Regions from separate parts of the Homo sapiens genome. Here regions 2 and 3 are each linked to region 1. Evidence: fine-mapped expression QTL. A gene starts in region 1. Each other region holds a variant in brackets. All regions are shown on one strand. Distances are from middle to middle.

Evidence for each region. PIP is the estimated chance that this variant, and not a neighbour inherited with it, causes the effect. A credible set is the group of variants that fine-mapping cannot tell apart.
Region 2: its variant is the best candidate, but not a certain one, in a credible set for the expression of EVI2A in monocytes (Fairfax 2014, PIP 0.85).
Region 3: its variant is the best candidate, but not a certain one, in a credible set for the expression of EVI2A in whole blood (INTERVAL, PIP 0.54).

What each region holds. Positions count from the first base shown.
Region 1 is chr17:31,318,901-31,324,102 of GRCh38, forward strand. It overlaps EVI2A (ecotropic viral integration site 2A), which reads right to left and starts at 2,722. Exons shown (of 2, transcript NM_014210.4): 1 at 2,595-2,722; 2 at 1-123. The coding sequence starts at 113. All of the region lies in intron 36 of NF1 (neurofibromin 1), which reads left to right.
Region 2 is chr17:31,262,323-31,267,553 of GRCh38, forward strand. NF1 (neurofibromin 1) reads left to right here. Exons shown (of 58, transcript NM_001042492.3): 36 at 2,907-3,017. Among named protein-coding and RNA genes, the nearest start is that of OMG, 32 kb to the right of the region's middle. The variant C/CA (reference allele first, on the strand shown) is at 2,089.
Region 3 is chr17:31,381,830-31,387,060 of GRCh38, forward strand. No RefSeq gene overlaps it. Among named protein-coding and RNA genes, the nearest start is that of RAB11FIP4, 7.2 kb to the right of the region's middle. The variant T/G (reference allele first, on the strand shown) is at 1,916.

The DNA of each region.
Region 1 (5,202 bases):
TTAGCCCACAGACGGGTATAGTTTGCTTTTGTTCCAGGAGACAAAGAAAAAACTGTTGTCATCAGAAAGGCAAGATGTAGGTAATGTCCTGTGTGTTCCATGTCCGTGGGCATGCTTGGCAATCTGTTGGGATAGCAATATAATTTGTTAGTTTGTGAAAGAATAATGGATCCTAGTTTTGGTAATTGTAGTTAAAAGATAGTGTTGAGATGTTACAAGTAAACTACAAGCTTATGCCTAATATTCGCTACCCTGAATTCCTTCTCAACTAAATTTCTTTTCTATTCAGCTATGTATGAAGAAGCATTTTAATTTCTATTAACACTTTTAGATGCTAGAAGTTAGCATTACAAATAAATATTAATCATTTTAAGTGGACTATCATGGCTTTATATAGTTTTCTTCCTTTGAAGCGTGCTAGACTTCTGCTTTGAGTCAGTTAGTTCTGCTTTTACTTTTCTGATTCCTTCTTTAAAAAAAAAAAAAAATTAAGGATCATTCTTACAGAAACTACCCACCCTCTAACCTGTCACCAATCTTTACAGAAGAAATGTGGCCTTGAGCTTCTTGCTTCATGTATGAAATAAATGCAAATTTTTTTGGTGGAAAGAGGGGAAGTTTGGTAGCAACCAAAAGAAACTGAACTTCAAATAGAAATTCAAGGTGTTCTTTTTTTTTCTTGGGTGTTCATCTTGAAGCTTAGAATAAAGCTGGTACTTAGAAATACATTTGTAAGTGTATTTGTGAACGCAATTTTACTGTGGTGGTTGTCTCTTTTCATTTATATTTCCCTGGACTGACTGTGTCTTTCTGAAGGCAAAGGCATACCAGTTTTCTCAACCTAAAAATCTGAAGAAAAAAAAAAAAAAACAGCAAATTTCCTCTGAGTAGACTTAAAAGTTCAACAAAAGTTGCTGGGTTTTCTTTTAAAGCATCATTTATACCTAGCATTTTTTCTGATTTTGACATAATTGTAAAAAAAAATGTGTAATAAAATAGAAATAGAGCATCAGGATCTTGATGATTTGGGATGAAGTGGCAGGTTATAAGCATCTCAACAGATAATTGAAAATGTTGAATTTCCGCTTTGGCCCTGAGCTTGCTGGAAACTAGTACAAAAAGGAGACAAGTTATATTATACATTTTTTAAATCTACCAAATGATTGATTTAAATAGAAATGGCATATCTTAGAATTTAACAGTTCCATGTACTGCTAACCCAGCAGGAAAGATTTATAATCATTATTAAGGTATCTTATAATAATATACCAGTTTGTCTTGAGCTACTTTTGAAAGGAGTATTTTATTGTTAGCATTTATTTGAATGAACTAAAAGCAAAACTATATTGTTCTCCTGAGATTTACTAAATGAAATTGCCTGGTTAAGAACCCTACGTATGCTATAGAAATTCTTCTCAAATGTACTTAGGAGTCCTTTTATTTAAAAAAAAAAAAAAAAGGCAGATTCTTACCTAGCTAGTATAGGTAGGGCCTGAAAGTCTTTGTTTCCAAACCAACTCCTAAGCAACATGGATGCCACTGCTAGTCAGGCTTTTGAACATCAAGGTTTTATAAGAAATGGTTGTTATATGTCATTGGCTGACATTTGTATACTATTAAAATACAGAAATTGAAAATAAGAAATGTGATACGTTGAGTTATGCAAACAAAAGTAGCATGTAATAAACAATGCTAACTGGAGACTATATTTCATATTAATAGTAGGGAGGAAAAACTATTAAATATTCCAGGATTAAGATTACTTTTTAGATTATGACCTTTAGTAGACAATTAAAGGCCCAAGTCACTGGCTTTTGTATAATAGTGTTCAGCTTTAATTTTTAAGTTTAGTGACATAAATCTTTGGATATTTCATGATTCTTCCACAAAAAGAAATACTTGAAATTGGATTAGCAAGTAATTTCCATCTTTTTATACTAGACTGGACTTCTGTATTAGATGCTAGAATGATTTAAAGTAGATTATTCTTTTCACATTAGTTCATTAACAGTGTAGTATACATCATAGTATTGGTACACATTTTAACAGTGCTTACCACGGAACAGATAATAGGCCTGCTGTTGATTGTCTTCAGCCAGATGTACTGCAGTGCCCAAATAAACAAACTGTATGACAAAATGAGACTTTCTCTTGCCCTTACAAATGCCTGAGAATTGAGGACTGTTTTTACTCCAGTTTATGCCTTGGAGGCCAGGTTGTGTTATCAGAAGTTTTCTTATATCTGATCATTTTCAGTAGAATTTATTTTCAGTAGAATTTGTAATGTCCAAGCATTAGTAATGAGAAATTTATTTTTTAACTTTTGAAAAATAACAAAACATTTCCAGTTTACTTGAGGAAACCAAACTTAGATCCTTCGTAATCCTAATTTAAAACTCCATGGCGATGGCAAATTTTTTCATTTCTAACTTAAAATTTATGTAACAGGACAGAAAAAAAAAGTATACATTTTCAGTCACAATTCTAGTTTGTTAGTGAGATTCTTACACACTTTGATAGCATTTCCTCGAACACTAATCTGTCAGACGTTAGAAGTGAAAAGGCATAAGAAAAGCCGTATATATATGACCTACCTTACAAAATGCTTGGTCAAAATCTGATTATAACGTGATTTTGATAAACCACTTCTTTTCTTGTCTTCTTTTTAAAGCAGAATAGACTTGGAGAATATGAGCCTTAAAGTAAATCTGCAGTAAAAAAGGATATGTGCAGCTAGTTTTCCACTTTTAAAACCAAACCACAGATGACACATTTCCTTTCCACTGCAACTAAAGCACATGTCACAGGAGGGAAAAAAAAAAAAACAACGAAAAAGCTCCAACTTCTCTAGTTGGCCACTGGCATGACAGGAGGCTTTGTAGAACCAATCCCCGCCTCCAGAGCAGGGAGGGTTTTCCACTTAATGCCTTTTGACAGTATGCTCATTCTATAGGCCTGCTACATGCTTTAGTGTCATTCAAAAGAGGTTTTGAAATGGTATCTTCCATTTCAAATCTTCTCTAAAAGACTTATTTGAAATCTACAGACTGATTTGAAAATGTGAGTTTGGAGTCCATGGGATACTGATCAGATAATGTAACAATTGTGGAACTGCAGCAATTATTTGAGAAAATATCTAGTAAACTTAGATTATATGGGACAGAAAATGCTTTCGTGTGGTGTAGTGTGTGTATACACACACACACACACACACACACACACACACACAACTGTCAAACATCCTGTCATCACCTCAAGTTTAACATGACTGAAACAGACTTTAAGAACTAGGTATGGGCTGAACACGGTGGCTCACACCTGTAATCCCAGCACGTTGGGAGGGTTGACGCAGGCAGATCACTTGAGGCCAGGAGTTCAAGACCAGCCTGGCCAACATAGAGAAAACCTGTCTCTACTAAAAATATAAAAATTAACCAGGCAGGGTAGCATGCACCTGTAGTCCCACCTACTTGGGAGGCTGAGACAGGAGAATAGCTTGAACCCGGGACGTGGAGGCTGCAGAGATCATGAGATCTTGGCTGCATGAGCTAAGATCATGCCACTGCACTCCAGCCAGGAAGACAGAGTAAGACTCTGTCTCAAAAAAAAAAAAAAAAAAAAAAAAAAAAAAAAAAAGAACTGGATATGGCAGCACATATCTGTAATCCCAGCTACTAGGTAGGTTGAGGTAGGAGGATCACTGGTGGAGCCCAGGAGTTCAAATCCAGCCTGGGTAACATAGCAAGACTCCATCTCTTAAAAATTAATTAAATTAATGAAATAAAAAGAACTTTATTTTTTCTTTAAAGGAGGCTGCCTGTGACAGTCTTCTTGTTTCTGTTCATGATAGCAACATTCTAATATCAGAGGCTTAGTATACAACACATCATTTTAATTTAAGTCCTCTCAGTCCTGATCAGACTTTGAATCATGTTGGTCCTTCCTTCATATTGTTGGATCAGTTTCTTTTTCCCTGTTTTTACTGTCAACAGTACTATTTTAGATCCTTATCAGGTCATACCTAGACTCTACAGTGCCTTTTCGGTAGCCCTGAATCCTTCTTATATCTTGTATACATCACTGTCTTTGGTCATACCACCCTTTCTTTAAGGGAAAATAAAACCGGTTGAACAGTTCCCTAATACATACAACAATGATTCAGAAATGTTTGTGTACATAAACATCAGATGAGAAGATTGTTTAAAAATTATAAAAGCAGGACATGGTGGCTCACACCTGTAATCTCAGCACTTTGGGAGGCTGAGGCGGGAGGATTACTTGAGCCACAGAAATTCGAGACCAGCCTGGGCAGCATGGCAAAATCCTGTCTCTACAAAAAATACAAAAAAACAAAAACAAAAAACTAGCCGGGCATGGTGGCGCTTATCTGTAGTCCCAGCTACTCAGGAGGCTGAGGTGGGAGGATCACCTGAGCCTGGGGAGGTCAAGGCTACAGTGAGCTGTGACCGTGCCACTGCAGTCCAGCCTGAGTTAAGGGAAAAAAAAAAAAGATAAAAATTTCCAGGCCCCACTACATAGATCCATATTTAGTAGGTCCAGGTTGGGACCAGGAAACTGCATTTTTATCAAGCACCACAGTTGATTCTGACGCCAGTAGTCCACAGAACATATGCTGAGAAATGGTGAGCCCCTAGTAGAAAACCTAAGCCCTTTGGTTGGGCAGTTATGGTCTCTCCACAATTTGACTATTCTGTATTTTCCCAGCTTTATCTCTCAAAACTTCTCTACCTGAATCCTCCATTCTGGCTAGACTAGCTGTCTCTTCAACACATCTAGTTACCTGTTTCTTTTCCTTTTTGCCTTTCTCCATAAGGCCTGCCCAGTCCTCTTGCTGAGTCTGCATTCCTCCTTACCTGATTCAGCCACTGTATCTTCTATGTAGCTTTCACTGACTGCCCAGTTTGTGTTAATCTCTCTCTCTCTCTCCTTTGTCTTAATAACAGTATTTTCTCTGCATTTCCTTTGATAAGTGATTACTTTCTACCTCATATCTTCTATCTTGAAATATTTGTGTTGTTTTAAAATCATTTGACTTGTCATATTTTTATCTTATTTTCTCCCAACAAGATTAAAAATTCTGAGGTGAAGTTTTTTATTGATACATGATAATTTGTACATATTAATGGAGTATGTGTGATTTTTTTGGTTTTTTTTGTTTTTGTTTTTGTTGGAATCTCGCTC
Region 2 (5,231 bases), 57 kb before region 1:
AGTATACTTCAGTATTGCTATAAAATTTCTGTGGACATTTGTTTGAATCCCATTTAGTGGGATTTAGTTTGTGAATGAAAAGATCCTCATTGTTAGACACTTACTCTGTGATGATACAGTGAGAGTAGTTTGCTGAATCTTTTAAAGTACCTTTCACAGGACTTTATGCTTAGTAAGTGCTCCTTCGTGTCTGTGATTTGAGTGCTATGTTCATAGTATGTTCCAAAACAGAATAAAACAGAATCTGATGATGAGAAGTTAAAGATTTGTATATAATATGCCTTGAATTGTAAGTGCCTGTTGTTAGTTGTATTACTTACAGGTCATGGTTTTGTACATATAACTCCAAACCATTGATACTGTTAAAAGAATATATGAATATATGAAAGAATGTATAAACATAAGAATGTATGGGTATATAGTGTCCTTTCCAAATTAATTTTTATTTTTAGCTCTACTAGATTTTTTTTAGTGTAACAAATGTTTATTCCTATGTAATTAAGGGCATATTTTCCATACAGACTATTCACATTACCTAATTGAAAATTATATACTACAAAAATATAATACTATTTTTAGGCCAGACATGGTGGCTAATACCTATAACCCCAACATTTTGAGAGGCCAAGGTGAGAGAATTGCTGGAGGCCAGGAGTTCAAGACCAGCCTGGGCAACATAGTGAGACCTTGTCTTTATTAGATAGATAGATAGATAGGTAGGTAGGTAGGTAGGTAGGTAGGTAGGTAGATAGATAGGTAGGTAGGTAGGTAGGTAGGTAGGTAGGTAGATAGATAGATAGATAAGATAAGATAAGATAAGATAGATAAGATAGATAGATTGGGCACAGTGGCTCATGCCTGTAATCCCAGCATTTTGGGAGGCCAAGGCAGGAGGATTGCTTGAGCCCAGGAGTTTGAGACCACCCTGGGCAACATAGCAGGACTCCATCTCTACAAATAATAAAATATTAACCAGGTGTGATGGTACGCACCTGTGGTCCCAGCTACCTGGGAGGCTGAGGTGGGAGGATTGCTTGAGGATGCAGTGAACTGTGATTGCACCAGTGCATTTCCAGCCTAGGTGACAGAATGAGACCTTGTCTATAAATAAAGAAATAAGTAAAAATATAAATAAGTAAAAAGAAATATAAGTAAATATAAATATAAATAAATATAAATATAAAAATGAATGAATCAAAACAGTTTTTAAATTTGACATCACTGAGGACATCCTAGCCATTTTTCTAGAAAAATATTTTTATTATTCCTTTTTTCTGAGATCCTACCTTCCCTTACAAAGCAATCTTTTGTGCTTTTGAAGATTAAGTAATCCAATATATATAATATACTTAGCATAGTATCTGGTACTTGTAAAGTAATTAATAAATGTTGGATCTTATTTTTGTTCTAAATTCCCACTGATGCTCTTGGAGACCCATTTTCTTTTTTTTAAAAAAAATGAAGGTAGCTTTATAATATTCTCAGTTATTTAAAAAATTATTAAATTACTTGATATAGAAATCTAAAGAAAGTTAAAAAAATTAAAAATTGTTTATCCTCCCTCTCAGAATACTTCACTTAACGTTTGGTGAATAGTCTCCCAGTCATTTATCTATGCACATGTACATTTGTTTCTCCTATCAAATGATATCTAGGTTGTTTCCATTAATATTTTTAAAATTCTGACCTGGTACCAGCAGCATGATGGGCTGAGCTAATGCAATCTCTTCCCAAGACATAAGGCTCATAGAAATACTAGGTGTAAAAGAAAATATGTGTACTTAAAAAAATTTAGGCCGAGTGCGGTGACTCACGCCTGTAATCCCAGCATTTTGGGAGGCCGAGGTGGGTAGATCACCTGAGGTCAGGAGTTCGAGGCAAGCCTGGCCAGCATGGCGAAACCCCATCTCTACTAAATAAATAAATATATATATATGAATTAGCCAGGTGTGGTGGTGGGCACTTGTAATCCCAGCTACTTGGGAGGCCAAGGCAGGAGAATCATTTGAACCCGGGAGGCAGAGGTTGCAGTGAGCCGAGATCGTGCCACTGCACTCCAGCCTGGTCAACAAGAGCAAAACTCCATCT[C/CA]AAAAAAAAAAAAAAATTAAATTTATAGCTGAAGCTAGTTTCTAAGCAAATTACCTAGCATACAGTCAGTATAGACAGATAAATGGAAAATATGAAAGAGGTTAGGAGATGCAGAAGATAAAATGAGGAGGTTCAAAATATGTCTAGTAGGTGTTCCCTAGAAACTGAGCTCAGTGAGAATGGGAAGAAGTAATATTTGAAAGGCTAATGGATGTATGTTTTCTAGAGTTGATGAATGACATGAATCTTGAGGTTGAAGAAGCACACTGAGTCTTGAGCAAACTATATAAAAATTAAACCAGGCTTTAATACATATGGGAACATAATATATGCTAAAGCTGGTATTCAGAATCGAGATTAGGATGGACTTTCAATAAATGGTTTTGATAAAACTGAGTAATGATTTGGAAAAATATTTTCATACCATTTATGATAAACTTCCATAAATCAAAAAAAATGAGCAAAGCAAGGCCTTTTTCATCCATTCAAAATCCATAAACTAGAAAAGATTGATAAAATGAATTATTTAAAAAATCATAAACTTCTGTCTGGGACAAAAATGTCATGAGTAAAACCAATCCTATGGTTAATATTCTTGCCCAGTAGTTCTCTTAGAATAGTCCTAAAAGTGCTTTTGTGGTTCAAAGAGTAATACCTTGAAATTTTTGGTGCATGTTGCCAAATTACCCTTTAGAATGCCTGTTGCTTTTAAAATATTTTTTCATTTTAGTATTTTATTGTTTATCCAATTATAGACTTTTTTACATACTCAGTAGACAACATAAAGCCTCATAATTACTCTGTTATTTTTCTTTTAGGCATCAGGTACATGAAAAAGAAGAATTCAAGGCTTTGAAAACGTTAAGTATTTTCTACCAAGCTGGGACTTCCAAAGCTGGGAATCCTATTTTTTATTATGTTGCACGGAGGTAAGAAATACTATGTTTTGGGTCTCTTAACAGAATTTTTTAAATTATAGCAAATATAGAGAGATGGCAAGTTTGGTTTTTCCCAGTTGACTTAACAGGAATTGAAGACAAGTTTACTTGGGAGCATATAGCAGGGTAAATAGCCTGCGTTTCCTAAAATGATGGTCGGTATCTAGTAGCTGCTTTTCATACTACCCATTTCATATTGCTTACTCTGTCCTACATCATTTTTTAAAATACTGCCTGCAATGGATTAATTACCAAGAGTTAAAAACCCACAAAGAATCTTTTGTTTTCAAGTATATTCTGATTAAATAGTACTCACAACATGATAACTGGGAACTTTTTTTAAAGGAAGAAATAAAACTATAAGAGCCTATTTCTGAGAACTTTTAAAAATATGCTGTGTAAGACAGCATCAGGATGATTTAAAAAATAATTCAAAGGAGTGGTGAAAAATCTCTATGAAGATGGTGCAAGGGGTGGCCTGGAAAACGGTGCTTGTTCATGCTGCCCTCAGTTGAGGCTAGTTCCTAGAAAGCCTTTCTGGAAATGTTGTGAGCTCTTCCTTAATAATAGGTATGATGCTTGCCTTGCTTTCCCTACCATTGTCTTTTCTTTTTTGCTTCATTTTACCTTCCTTTTGAAAACTCAATCTGTGACGTTATTTGGTCAGTTTTACTTTTTCCCATTTACCATGACATACATTCATGGTAATTGAGCCTTAGAGACAACATGATACATAGAGAAACCACTGACTTTGGAATCTCAAGGACCATGTTTAGACCTAGTTCTGCTACTCATTAGTTATAGACTTAATCTTTACCAGTTTCCTGAATTTAACAGTATTTAACATCCATGACCATTAAGTTAGTAGACTTACATTGTTAGTCAGCTTGCTGGCCACAGGTGGCAGTGTGTAGGAAACAAATCAAGGTTGAGAAATAGTAGAGAGACGGTGAAGGAAGATCAGTGGAAGATGGGAAACTTGTCTAATAGGGTCATTCAGATAGCCTTAAGACCAAGAAGTCCAAAGGACTGGAGTATTAGGGAATCAAGAAAGTAAGAAAATTGCATTGAACCTCCCGCCACCCCCCTGCCCTTTAACAACTCTAAGTAACCCCTGCTCACCTTCCCATGAAAGGCCTCTCTCCAGCTCTCATCTCAGTTGCCATTTCTAAATTGCCTAAGATCATTTTAATTTTCGTTTGCGTTTGAGATGAACCATATTTGTATTCTAACCCCAACCTTTAATACAACCAGGATATTTTTACTTTTCCGTTGTTGTCTAAGTAAAAAGCAAACATTGGTAAGGGAGGTAGAAGATGTGTTTCCCCCTCTTCTTTAAAATCTTATTAGTTTACAAATAGCAAAGATTTCTGGAAAACAAAGCTGCGTTTTTTTTTTTCGGAATCAGAAACTGTTATATTTGTATTCCCTCTCTGTGGTGATCTAGAAAAAGCTAAAGGAAAGATTGGACCTGCTGCAGATCCCTTAGTGAGATTCAATCAGTTTGGTTTCCATGAAACCTATTGAGTCTTGTGGCCTGAGAATGCTAAGAATTCTCAGCTCTGCTGCTTATTAGCTGCATAATCTTTTTTTTTTTTTTGAAATGGAGTTTCACTCTTGTCACCCAGGCTGGAGTGCAATGGAGCGATCTCGGCTCACTGCAACCTCCACCTCCTGGCTTCAAGTGATTCTCCTGTCTTAGCCTCCCGAGTAGCTGGGATTGCAGACATGTAGAACCATGCGTGGCTGATTTTGTATTTTTAGTAGAGATGGGGTTTCACCATATTGGCCAGGCTGGTCTTGAACTCCTGACCTCAGGTGATCTGCCTGCCTCGGCCTCCCAAAGTGCTGGGAATTACAGGTGTGAGCCACTGCACCTGGCCTTAGCTGCATAATCTTAGATAAGTTTATTTTTCCAAATCTGTTGCTTCATATGTTAAAGCTGGGGTATGTGCTTATAAAAACTGTCTACCTCTCCTATAAAGTGTTTTGTGACCTATAAAGTTGTGTAAGGAGTAAATTTGAGATTTTCTTTTTTTCTTTCATTCTTTTTTTGGGGGATATGGCACTGTCAGTTTCAGATTTTCAATCCTTTTAGTTTCTTACTTAGACCTACTGGAGCTCCTCCTGACCTTCATTTTCACCTGGTGTGAAGCCTAGCTCCAAGACAGATGAGTACACAGTATATCAGAGCAGAGCATCCAT
Region 3 (5,231 bases), 63 kb after region 1:
GTCCTCAGTTTTCTCTCATTGCTGCTTATTTTTCTCCACACAGCACTGCTCAGCACGCAGGCATGTGAGGAAGCTGGGCTTAAAGGAGACTCCAGCAAATGGAGAGACAGACCACAGTCCTGGGTTGGAAAGCTGAATATCGTTGAATGCCAGATCTTCCCAAATAAATGAACTGGCTTAATACAATTCTGATCAAGATGCCAACAAGAAGAGAGTGTATCCAGACAAAATGATCTTTGGAAAATATTCTTCACCTTGTGGAATAAACAGGAAAGCATGGCTAACAACGGGTTGTCGAAAACTTCCTTATTAGGTAGTAAAACAAATTTTTAAATGCTTAAATACTAATGGTAATTAGAGTAAATATAAAGTGGAACAGGCTAGAAGGTCCAGATTATGCTTTGATTTTTTTATTTAAAAAGACAAGCATGAGTAACTCCCAAAGTGTATTGGCTTCAAAGCCACAAAAGCTTATTTCTCACCTCTGCTACATGTCCATCACCCGTTATCAGGAGGCTCTGCTCACCCTGATGTCTTGGGACTCCAGAGTGAGTGATCAGCCATCTCTGATCACTCACTCATTTGATCTACAAATGGCTAGCCATCATGCCAGAGGGAAGGAGCTCAGGCTGTAATGTCCAGCCGCTGTGATGATGGAAATGTTCTGCTGGAAGCTGAAACAGAGGGGTCCCATTTTCATTTGTCACATTAGCAAAGACGTACTTAACTAATATTGGTGCCAGTCCAGAATGTGGTGCAATGAGTTCTTCCTGCACTTGGCCTCATCTTTCTGTATTACCAGTTCCATATCTGCACTGTCCAGGACAGTGGCCACTAGCCACATGTGGCCATTGAACACTTGAAATGTGGTTAGTGAGAATGGGAAACTAAACTTTTATATTAAATAAATGTAAATAGTTACATGTGGCTACTGGCTGCTAGATTGGACAGAGCAGCATCTGGAAGCTCTTGCATCAGCAATTAAAGGCTTGAGGACAGATACACAGTCACTTTTCACAGTCATTGCCAGAACTTGACACACAGCTTCACAAAGTCACAAGGGTCAAAAATCACTATCTTCCTCTGTTCAAAAGGGAAAGAGCTGGAAACATTGGCCAAGAACATTAATGACTCCTACAATAGGGAAGGACTTTGTAAGCTTAAAAGCAGTGTAAGTGCAGTGGCTCACGCCTGTAATCCTAGCACTTCAGGAGGCCGAGGCGGGTGGATTGCCTGAGCTCAGGAGTTCAAGACCAGCCTGGGCAACATGGGCCTCTCTACCAAAATACAATACGTTCTCGGGCGTGGCGGCATGTGCCTGTAATCCCAGCTGCTCAGGAGGCTGAGATAGGAGAATTGCTTGAACCCGGGAGGCGGAGGTTGCAGCGAGCTGAGATTGTGCCATTGCATTCCAGCCTGGGTGACAGAGCAGGACTCCGTCTCAAAAAAAAAAAAAAAAAGCAGTGTAAGCTTAAAAGCAGAAATCCTAAGGGTCCCGCATTGACTGCCTAACATTAAAATGTCCCCATGTCCAAAAAAATCACACACAAAATTAAAAGGCCAACCAATAGGGAATTATAAAGAGTTCATAAAAACTCATCTAAAGAAAAAACCTAAGCAGAAAGAAAAATGGGCAAAGAACATGAATGGCCAATCCACAGAAATATTGTACCAACTCCTGTTTATGATGGAAAAGGTCATCACACTCATTAGTAAACAAAAAGAAATACAAACTGAAACAATGGGATACCTGATACATATTTTCACTTGTCACATTAGCAAAGACACTTAACTAATACTTGGTGCAGGTCAAGAATGTGGTGCGATGAGTTCTTCCTGCAGATGGCCTCATCTCTCTGTATTACCAGCCTTAAAAATGTCCATACTGGCTGGGCGTGGTGGCTTATGCCTGTAA[T/G]CCTAGCACTTCAGGAGGCTGAGGCAGGTGGATCAGCTGAGGTCGTGAGTTTGAGACCAGCCTGACCAACATGGAGAAACCCCCGTCTCTACTAAAAATACAAAATTAGCCGGGCGTGGTGGTGCATGCCTGTTAATCCCAGCTACTCAGGAGGCTGAGGCAGAAGAATCACTTGAACCCGGGAGGCGGAGGCTGTGGTGAGCTGAGATTGCGCCATTGCACTCCAGTCTGGGCAACAAGAGCGAAACTCCGTCTCAAAAAAAAAAAAAAAAAAAAAAGTCCATACCATTCGCCCTAGTAATTATCTAGGAATCTATTCTGGAGAAACAAATGGTAAAAGAGTGAAGACTTTCATCAAAGTATTATAATATCAGAAAACCTGAAGACAACCAAAATATTGGTTAAATTATCTACATTCATCCAGCACTTTCTGGAAGCTGACCACTTCCTTATGCAGCCTTTAAAAATGGCCTAATAATATTTAAATTTTGGGAGGGAACTTCCAATAAAATCAAGAGTTTTAAAACCACATAAGAGGGCTAATTCCCAATTATATAAATACAAATATATGTGTATAGTTTTTGCATAGGATAAAGAAAAGGAAATGTATTGAATGTTAACAATATGTATGGCTCACTTACTCCTTTTTGTGTCTATCTTCTAAGCATTTTACAATGATTATTGCTTTGAAAACAAAAAGGGTTTTAAGAGATGAGGATAATGCTTACTTTTAGTTGTACTAAAAAGGATGTTTATGATAGCAGAGTTTAGGTATTACATTAACTACCACCTCTTGGATGTTTTTACCTTTATCTTTTTCCTTTTATCAAAAGGTAGCTCTTTACTAATTCGGATTACAGGGAGCTGGGTTTGTTTTCCTTCCTTAGGGGAGTATCAGCATAACTAGTTTAGAGTGGTGCAGGTGAACTGCTGTCAACTCCGTAGGCCAACCCTAAACCTTCACTGTTATTTTATAACTTCTACTCAACAGCTTGCAACCTTTCAAGGTTAACAAGGTTGATGGGGAATGGTCCTTGCTCTCAAGAAGCTCGTAGGCGGCCAGGCACTGTGGCTTATGCCTGTAATCCCAGCATTTTGGGAAGCTGAGGCAGGTGGATCACCTGAGGTCAAGAGTTCAAGACCAGCCTGGCCAACATGGTGAAACCCCATCTCTACTGCAAATACAAAAAATTAGTAGCCGGGCGTGGTGGCTCACGCCTGTAATCCCAACACTTTGGTAGGCCGAGGCGAGTGGATCACCTGAGGTCGGGAGTTCGGGACCAGCCTGACCAACACGGAGAAACCCTGTCTCTACTAAAAGTACAAAATTAGCCAGGGATGGTGGCATGTGCCTGTAATCCCAGCTATTTGGGAGGCTAAGGCACAAGAATCGCTTTGAACCTGGGAGACAGAGGTTGCAGTGAGCTGAGATCGCACCATTGCACTCCCGCCTGGGCAACAAGAGCGAAACTCCATCTAAAAAAAAAAAAAAAAAAAAAAAAAAAAAGCCAGGCATGGTGACAGGCACCTTGTAATCCCAGCTACTCGGGAGGCTGAGGCAGGAGAATCGCTTGAACACTGCAGAGGTTGCAGTGAGCTGAGGTCACGCCATTGCACTGCAGCCTAGGCAACGAGAGTGAGACTCCATCTCAAAAAAAAAAGAAATACATGGTGAAGGATGTGCACATTTAACTATAATTCAGTCATTTTCCTCACCTCTTTTGGCTTCCAGGCACCTGTTCCCGCTCCTCCTATGGCTCTGACAGCACTTCCTTCACCTGCCTCTTAACTCTCGGCTCTTGACCCTGTGTCTGTTTTCCTAATCTTGGAATGATCCCATCATCCCTGAGAAGACATCTGGGCGCCCTGGCCAGGGGAGACAGCTGATGGGCAGAGCATCCCTGTGTGTGCATCACGAACACACTGTAGAGTCTGCAAAGTTCTGTGAGGGCAGAGCAGTAAGGGCAGCTGACTCAGGGAAGGCTTCTTGGAGGGGGTGGCATTTGAAGGATGGCAGTGGGGGTGGTGGAGGGAGGACAATCCAGGCAGAGGGAACAGCATATGCAAGGCAAGCCAGGCATTTCACTGATCAATTCCATGTTGAGTCACTGTCTTGGAGTCTATGCCACACAATGCCTGGGATATAGTAAGTGCTCAATAAATGTAAACTGAGTATAGTAGATGATGTTACTGCCCAGCCATGTTTTACAGAATGGAGAGCATCAGGCTGTAAAGGGCCTTCCTGCTTGCCGCTCACCCTGAGGATTGAGTTTTTCTTTTAGGCAGAAGTGGGCAGTAGAGAAGGCTCAAAGCCAGGGAATGTGAGTGGATTTGACTCACCAAGGACACTGCTTCCTAAGCCAGGAGGGAAATATTGGTGCCCTGCCTGGAAGTTAGTTTCAGGGGCCATTTCTGCAGCTGACAGAAGGATCTGGAGCCCAGTTGGGTAGAATAAGTTAGGTTTTGGCATTTCTTCTTAGAATCCCGGAAGGAATTTTAGCAATCAGCCGGTCCTGCTTCTAAGGGTCAGAGAAGATTCTGGATACCCCTCACATCAACAGCTCATGCAGCAGAGGAAAGATGAGGTCTCAAGGTGCCCCCCTGCACCCCAAGTGTGCCCTAGTCCAGCCAGGGTCCTCAGCACTCCACAGGCAGGGCTGGCTGTGTCTCCAAGCAGGGGCCTCTCTGCTTTTGCTCACAGAAACATATTCTGGGATCAGTGAAGAAGGAAAATAAGTTCACGGCACCTTCTTCCCCTTCAAAGTGATAATTATTCATGGGTTTAAAAAAACCCAGCAGGTTGTGAACAGGAAGTAACTGAATCCTGCCCCATTTCCAGACAACATGGACAATGAAGTCAAGGCTCACAGATGAAAATACAGAAATGTTCCCCCTTTTAGACTGGTTCTAAACTGCTCCATACTGACACACATAATCACCACCCAGGTGCCAGGTACTGTGCCAAGCGCTGGGCGAGGCATGACGCAATCTTTTTTAAATTAAAAGCCTGAAGGACCTCTACAAGGTAGAAAAACTGAAGCTTAGAGAAATTAACCTGACCAGAGTCATGGGGCTAAAAGAGCAACAGATGTTGGTGCCCAGCTCAGCTGTTTTGAATTCCAAAGCCTGGCTCTTCATAATCTTTGATAACTTCCACATGATATTCATCCCATCTGTATTCATTTCTCATGGCTGCTGTGCTAGCTCCCACAAACTTGGTGGCTTAAAACACCAGAAATTTATTCTGTAACAGTTCTGGAGGCCAGAAGGCCAAAATCCAGGCATCAGCAGGGCTGTGGGCCCTTCAGAGGCTCTG